Regions from separate parts of the Homo sapiens genome. Here all the other regions are linked to region 1. The links come from fine-mapping of genetic effects on gene expression. A gene starts in region 1. Each other region holds a variant in brackets. All regions are shown on one strand. Distances are from middle to middle.

Region 1 (2,766 bases):
TGTTGGGTAGATTGGCTAATGGTGATTAACCTCCTTGGTATAGAAGATTTTAGATTAAAGCAGAATTTTAAATTACAATAACTAGCTGATGGAGTTTTGCAGAACAAATTTTAAAATCCCCAAGCCACAAATGTAATATTTGCATTATACACACGCTCCTTTCATTCCCTTGAATTGATAACACTTCGCAATCACAAGATTTGGCCTGGGAGAAAATAAACGAGCTTTTCAGCAGTGCAAGCTGATGACCAACTTTGTTTACTGATCAGTCATAAAAGTTTTTATGAACTTCATCTCGCACCCACAACACCTTGTAAAGTGACCCTCTCACTATGTGAACACAACGAATGTCTACAGAGGAAAGAACCACGTATTATGAGGATTAACTACTGGAATGGAATGTGTCTATTAATAGCTCATAGTAGGCACTAAATAATGGCAACCAAATTCAACAACACTCACTAAACAGAAATGGGGAGGTGGGATGGTAAAGGGGAAGTTTAACTGAGCTTGGAAGGGGTTAATATTCAGGGTTGAGAGAATCTGCCCTTAGGAATCTTTCAAGAAGACAGGGATCCTGCCCAAATGCCATTGCAGTGCCAAGGGTAGGGAGCCTAGCCAAAGCTGAAGTTGGGCATACCCACGCCACTGCCTTCAGGCCATCATTCCGTGCATTGGAATGCTCCAGGTGACACACAGGAGAACCTTGTTTACTGTTCTTGACCCAAGGCTTGAGATCCTTCTGTGGGCAAATGCCTGCACATCACCTCTGTATCATGTGAGTGAAGGACTCTGAGTCCCTGGTATTTGCAATAATCGATCTCATCCTACACTTGTCCTTCCAAGCCAGTGTTTCTAAGAGTGGTCCTGATCTGTGATCACTCCTGGAACATCGGTTAAAAAGTGCAGATCCCAAGGACCCAAGCTAGACTTGTGAATCAGAATTTCTGGAGATAAGGCCCAGGAATTTGTTCAACAAGCTTCCATAGTAGTTCCAGGCATATGGAACCTTTTGAAATTCACTGCTCTCGGAGAAAACCCATGCTTTTTGCATTTTTTTTAAATGGAAAAATGTTGCTAGAGACTTTTAGCTGGAAATATAAGAGAAGATAATAACAACACAGTAATAATAATGGGCGGAGTCATGGGGAGGGGTCGTTTGAAGCTCTATTTGAGAACCTGCTGGCATTGGTGTTGTTGGCCTGTCTCAGCCACCCTGATGCTCAGGTAGGAACTCCTGAAAAAAAAAAATGTCTGGGCCGCGCCCTATGAGACCATTGAAAGGTCTGGGATGTCCATTCATCCTTGGGGTCACCTATGCCACAGGAAGTTCTGGACAAGAACTTCCCAACAATCCATAAGCGGACGCCACGAGGCGCGAAGCGCGTTGGTGGCCACACGCAACTCCAGGCAGCCCAACCCTCCCGCTACCTTCTGCAACTGCAGTCAGCTCCCAAAAGTGAACTGGCACAAAAAGGTGGGACTTCCGGCCCTGGAAGCCAATGCGCATGTGGCAGTCAACCGGTTACGCAATACTTCCTGTCGCGTGATCCTGAGGACCAATGAAAATGCATAATTGCAGTCCACGTGCCTCGGTTTCCGTTAGCAACCAGAGGCTTCTAAACAACCTACCCTCCTTCCCCATTTTCTGTGGTCCAACTACCCTCGGCGATCCCAGGCTTGGCGGGGCACCGCCTGGCCTCTCCCGTTCCTTTAGGCTGCCGCCGCTGCCTGCCGCCATGGTGAGTAACCGACCCTCAGGCGCCGCACCGCGCACAGGAGAGAGCGCGGCCGGGGCTGGAGACACTGAGCGGGTGGGCCCGGAATGATTACGTGGCCTCGTTGGGTCTGGCCGCACCTCAGCCTCCCTGAGAAGGGGAGCTGCGCCGGGCGCGAGAGATTCGGTTAACCGCAGCCCAAGCCCTTCTGGGGTAATCCTGGGTGAAGCCTTTTCCCAGCAGCCCAGCTCCGCCGCATCGCTTCGTTTCTCTCCTGCCTGCGGGGGCTGGAGCCAAGGCACAACTCTTAGGTGGCAGGTGAGGAGAGATAGAGGAAACTGCTGCCGGCCTAAGGTGCACGGCAGGGTTCTTAACTCTATTTCAAGAAGCTCCAAGTTTACGCACACACACACATTAACACATACGCAGGGTTCTCACTCAGTTTCAGGAAGCTCTAAGGTTTACACAGACACACGCGCGCGCGCGGTAACCAGAGGAGCAGGGAGAACGAATCCAGCTTTCTGTGTGATTGAAATCCAACTTTCTGATGTGGAGGTGACTTTAAGAATCCCAGCACCCCGTATTACAGCTGAGGAATTTGGGTGACATTTCCTTTGTTTTGGCTTGCTCAAAAAATATCATTAATCCCTCCAGCGAATATAGCATGCCATCTTAAATACCAGTCATACTTAGAACAGTGCACAGCACTGAAATGTTCAGGAAAACGGATGAAACCAGGGTTGAGAGCACCACCTGAAATAGCTACTGAAATACTTCAGCAACCAGAATTTCTATTTAGTCCACACTGTGTTCCAAGCGCTGTCTGGGAGCTGAGAAGACACCTGTGAGCTAAACAGATTGCTCCCTCCCCTTCTTGAGTTTAGAGCCTCTCCACTCATTCTCTTGATTTCCCTAAAATATCAGGAGAACACGTTGAAAACAAATCACAAAAAAATTGGTATCTCTTCCTGTTCTATCTTCTGTCATTCCTTTCCATCAGTTAACAACTGAGGCTTTGGAATCAGGCTCAGGTTCTTCATTAGTAAAT
Region 2 (2,766 bases), 23 kb before region 1:
TATAAACTACATGTTTAAAGTATGCAATTGGATAAATCTTGCTGTAGTACACACCGGATCAATCATTAGCACAATGAAGGTGGTGAACATATCCATCACCCCAAAAGTGTCCTTGGACCCATTTGTTCTTCCTTCCTCCCACCACGCCACCACCCCTCGCCACATTCAACCACCGATCTGCTTTCTGTCACTATAGTTTGGTTTGCATTTCTAGAATTTTATATAAATTGTAATACATAGCAAATACTCTTTTGTCTGGCTTCTTTCACTCAGCATCATTTTGAGATGCATTCACGTTGTCATGTGTACCAATAGTTGTTTCCTATTATTGTGGAATAGTATTCGATTACATGGCCTATACCAGTTTGTTATCCATTCATTGGTTTGTAGACATTTGGTTGCCTCTGATTTTCGGTTATTACAGACAACGCTGTTATAAACGCTCAAGTATTTGCAGGAACATATATTTCTTTCTCTCTTGGGTAAACACTCAGGAGTGAAATGGCTGGGTCATATGATAACTCTATGTTTAACTTTTTGAGGAACTGCCAAACTGTTTTCAAATGACTGTATCATTTTTACATTTCTACCAGAAGTGTATGAATTCATCGTTCCCTCTCTTAAAATTACATAAGAACTAAATGTTTACCTCCTGTTATAAAAAGAAAATCCAAAAACTTCAGAAATATAGAGTAAGAAAAGTGAACGTTCCCTTTTATTCCATCCCTTTCCTAGTTCGTCATACATATTTATCATTAAAAGTTTGGTGTGTGTTCATCTTTTCTTTGCAAGAGTCTGTGCATGTGTGTGCATGTGCACGTGTTTGCATGTGGAAGCATGTAGTGCGTGTAAGTGAGATTTTGTGAGCTCTGTTGCTCTAACTCTGGTTTCACTCACTGAACAATGAAGCTTGGAGGTCGTTCCTCATCAGTGCATGTAAACCTCAATCTTTTGAATTGTTGCTGAGTATCCTACTTCAATAAGCAGAGGGAAGAGGTGTTTTAAAATGTGGTTAGAATTCTGTTTACCCTTCCTCTGAAAGAGGCAGGTCTCTTCAACATTTTCTACTCATGTGACAATTAGAGAAGCTCCTTCTTCTCCTCAGGAAAGGCTGCCTGTGGGGAAGGATTGCATTTCTTTCGGTGGATCTGGGTCTTCTGGGAGCAGCACAGGCATGATCACCCTTCTGGAGAGTGATAGAACGGTCAGTGGAAATGTAATCGATGGCCACAAGGTGTGACAGCTCTGCCATCACATTCGGTTTATGCTTGTTTCACGTTCCTCAGAGCAGAATTGCCTTTCCAGGCCCACCATTTGTTCTGGTACTTGGTGGTGAGGAAGCTCACTTTAAGTGTAGTCATTCTGAGAAGGGCAAAAGGGCTTCAACTCTTCAACTTTCAGCTCTGGAAATGAGTAAAA[C/T]TGGGAGTTTCTTTTTATCATGTTAGAAAATTTACCACATTGGCTGAATGTGGTGAGAAAACCTACTCCCTTGTTAAAACAGACAATAATGCAGCACTCACTTGGTCAGCTAAACAGTTTTTTACTGTCTCCTCATGTGTGTTTTTTTCTCTCTTATATTCTTTTAATAATTAATGATACTAGGACTACATTAAATGGTACTTATTTATCCCTCTCTCAGCAATAACCTGGGGGCTAAATCTTTTACACTTATTAATACATAAAATTAGGACTATATTGTAATAAAGTTGCATATTCTGCACTGAACATTGGCATAAATGTTTTCATGTCATTAAATATTAACCAAATATTAAATCCACATCTTAATTGTTAATGACTTCATAATATTTCAGATATGGACATACCATAATTTATAACAGTTGCCCTGTGGTTGATTTTTACTAGTCGATGAAGATTTTGAGTAGCAATAAGTGAAGAAAAGTTATAAAAATTCTTCATTATGACAAGTGGAAATTAGGTTCTAGTAGCAATATTAAAATTAAATCAGGTATCACGTATTAAAATTTTGTTATCTTCCTATGATAATGCCTTCCTCATTATTTTGAACTAATATGCTACTCTTTTTTACTCTTTACTCTCAAACTTTAGAAAATGTTTCACAAAACTTTTACTCAGTAATTTGATAGCAATTTATAATTACACATTACCTGCTAGTCTCTGACAAGTATGTTGGTTAAATGTCTACTTTTGTTCAACCTTTCCACAGGGGACTTGAACATCACAGTCAGTCTCCCACATAGTGTCCAGCTGTGTGTTATGTTAGAGATATCATGCATGACATTGCCCCCAAAATACATTTCTTAAAAAAAGAACACTTTCCTGCTTGACAAACAACAACATTATCACACCTAAAATTAATAATCATTCTTTAATATCATCTAATAGCCATTATATTATTCAAATTCACCAAATGTTTCCCTGAATGTCCTTCCCAGCTTCTTTGTCCAAACGAGGAACCAATCCTGGACCACACATTGCACCTGGCTTTTATGTCCTCTCTCTATCTTTTAATCCAGCCTCCAGTCTCTTCATGGGTAGCTTCTTATTGCAGCTGCTTGGCCAGTGGCCGATAGAGGCCCCCTACATTGCTTGCCAGTGGTGTCATTTAGCTTGTTCCTCTCTCCCTTGTATTTCCTGGAAGTTACATCTACATATTGATTAGACCCAAGTTAAACATCTTTGGCTAGACTGCGTCACAGGGGATGCTGTGACATCGGAATTCATGACCCCAGGAGACATGGAATAACTGGTTGTCCCACTATTCCTGATGCTAGGATCAACCTTTAG
Region 3 (2,766 bases), 36 kb before region 1:
ATGTATCCACCATTAAAATAACATACAGAATAGTTTCATTGCCCTAAGGATCCTCTGTACTCCACCTATTCGTCCCTCTCTTCCACCTTACTCCTGGCAACCACTGACCTTTTTACTGTCTCCAGTTTTTCTTTTCCGGAATGCCGTATTTGTTGGAATCATACAGTATATAGCCTTTTCAGATGGGCTTCTCTCACTTACTGATATGGATTTAAGGCTCCTCCATGTCTTTTCATGGCTTGCTAGCTCATTTCTTTTTAGTGTTGAATAACATAAACTATTGTCTGGATGTGTCACAGTTTATTTATCCATTCACCTGCTGAAGGACATCTTGGTTCCTTCCAGGTTTGGGCAATTATGAATAAAGTTGCCGTGAACATCTGTGTGCAGATCTTTGTGTGGCCATAAGTTTCAGCTCATTTGGGTACATACTGAGAAGCACGATTGCTAGATCATACGGTGAGAGTATGTTTAGTTTTGTAAGAAGCTGCCAAACTGTCTTCCAAAGTGGCTGTACCTTTTTGCATTCCCACCAGCAATAAGAGTTCCTGATGCTCCATATCATTACCAGCATTTGGTGCTATGTGTTTAGGGCCTGGGCTATTCTAATAGGTGTGTGGCTTTAATCTGAAGTTCCCTAATGACCTATGATGTCGAATGTATTTTCATACGCTTATTTCCCATCTGCATATCTTCTTCAGTGAAGTATCTCGAACTCCTGACCTCGTGATCTGCCCGCCTCAGCCTCCCAAAGTGCTGGGATTACAGGCGTGAGCCACTGCACCTGGCCCAGTGAAGTATCTCTTTAGGTCTTTTGCCTGTTTTTTAATTGGGTTGCTTATTTTCTTATTGTTGAGTTTTAAGAGTTCTTTGTATATTATGGATAACATTCCTTTATCAGATGTGTCTTTTGCAAATACTTTCTCCCAGTCTGGGGCTTGTCTTCTCCTTCTCTTAACAGTGTCTTTCATAGAGGGGCTTTTTTTTTTTTTTACTTGAGGGCCTTTGTGACCCTAAAAATCAGAACTTTACATGTTTAGTTTTTTAAATAAGAAATTACATTAGAAATGGGCCCCATCCCCCAGCCT[C/T]ACCCTGCCCCACTTTGTCCATAGCGCCAACCCCTGCCCTGTCCCTGGCCCTATAGTATATTAACACTTGATCATTTTTTCAAAAGCTGAAAGTTCAGTGGCTAGTTTTTGAAAAGTCAGAAAATTTCCACAGCATCAAAATAGCTACATGAAAATAGCCTCAGTTTCTAAATGGCCACATCAAAACAATCACATCAAAAGGTCAGGCCCCTGCAAGGGAGACCCAGAGGAAAGCTTCAGGCCTCGGGCTGGTGCTGGCCATAGTTAATAATAATGTTTTGCATATTCCAAAATTGCTGAAAGAATAGATTTTTAAACATTCTCACCACAAGAAAAATGAGTAGGTGAGGTGAGGAAAATACTAATTAGCTTAATTTAATCTTTCCACCATGTAGATACATCACATTGTACCCCATAAATAAAATTATTATTTGTCAGTTAAAAACTAGTAAATGGGCTGGGCGCGGTGGCTCATGCCTGTAATCCCAACACTTTGGGAGGCTGAGGCGGGTGGATCATTTGAGGCCAAGAGTTTGAGACCAGCCTGGTCAACATGGTGAAACACTGTCTCTACTAAAAATACAAAAATTAGCCAGGCATAGTGGCAGGCGCCTGTAATTCCAGCTACTCAGGAGGCTGAGGTGAGAGAATTGCTTGAACCTGGGAGGCAGAGGTTGCAGTGCGCCAAGATCAAGCCACTGCACTCCAGCCTGGGCAACAAAGAGCTAGACTCTGTCTCAGGAAAAAAAAAAAAAAAAACTAATAAATGAAATAAATTATGCTTTAAAACAAAGACCCCATCACAGGACTCAGATTACTCATGGAGTTTCACCTTAGAAATAACAGCCCAATTTTCAGTATTAACCATATTTGGAAAAAATTTACCAAAGAAAAACCAAAACAATATCTAGCAGCCTTCCCAAACAGAGTTCTGTGGGCAGGTGTCCAGCAAAAGGAGGTGCTTTGTGGCCAGGCGCAGTGGTTTACGCCTGTAAACCCAACACTTTGGGGGGCCGAGGCAGGCGGATCACCTGAGGTCAGGAGTTCGAGACCAGCCCGACCAACATGGTGAAATCCCATCTCTACTAAAAATGCAAAAATTAGCCAGGCGTGGTGGCGTGTGCCTGTAGTCCCAGCTACTTGGGAGGCTGAGGCAGGAGAATTGCTTGAACCTGGGAGGCGGAGGTTGTGGTGAGCCAAGCTGGCACCATTGCACTCCAGCCTGGGCAACAAGAGCAAAACTCTGTCTCCAAAAAAAAAAAAAAAAAGAGATGCTTGTGAAAAAGGTGAAGCAGCACTCACAGGTTCTGAGAAGCCCTACTGGAAAGAGGTCTGTTTAGTATCTTTTAAACTTGGAGTTTATTTTTCAATAGTTTCACGATTTTATTCGCTATATCTTGGGCTGCAGGAGTTGGGATCCCTTCCTACTTTTCTCTTCCTCTGATATGCATTGAGGAAGCCTTCCCTTGCCCTATGTTTGAGATGACCTAAGATAGAGACAGCTGTTGTCTCGGCTTCCATCCCTGCTGTCTTGTGTCCAGGAGGCTTTGAAGAGAGCCCGGAGGAAGGCTGGGGGAATAGTTACCCTTCCACTCCCCAGTCCTGTGACTAACCCAGCCAGGTCCAGCCTTCCTTTCCATCTCAAAGATTTAGCTCATTTCTCTTTTCATTTTAAGGT

The links. PIP is the estimated chance that this variant, and not a neighbour inherited with it, causes the effect.
Region 2: its variant is the best candidate, but not a certain one, in a credible set for the expression of LZTFL1 in whole blood (TOPMed, PIP 0.59).
Region 3: its variant is the best candidate, but not a certain one, in a credible set for the expression of LZTFL1 in whole blood (TOPMed, PIP 0.62).

The regions. Positions count from the first base shown.
Region 1 is chr3:45,840,965-45,843,730 of GRCh38, reverse strand. It overlaps LZTFL1 (leucine zipper transcription factor like 1), which reads left to right and starts at 1,612. Exons shown (of 10, transcript NM_020347.4): 1 at 1,612-1,742. The coding sequence starts at 1,740.
Region 2 is chr3:45,863,518-45,866,283 of GRCh38, reverse strand. LOC124909374 (a long non-coding RNA gene) reads right to left here and starts at 1,330. Exons shown (of 2, transcript XR_007095900.1): 1 at 1,029-1,330. It also overlaps a transcript of LZTFL1 not described here. The variant C/T (reference allele first, on the strand shown) is at 1,420.
Region 3 is chr3:45,876,823-45,879,588 of GRCh38, reverse strand. It overlaps a transcript of LZTFL1 not described here. Among named protein-coding and RNA genes, the nearest start is that of CCR9, 8.3 kb to the left of the region's middle. The variant C/T (reference allele first, on the strand shown) is at 1,089.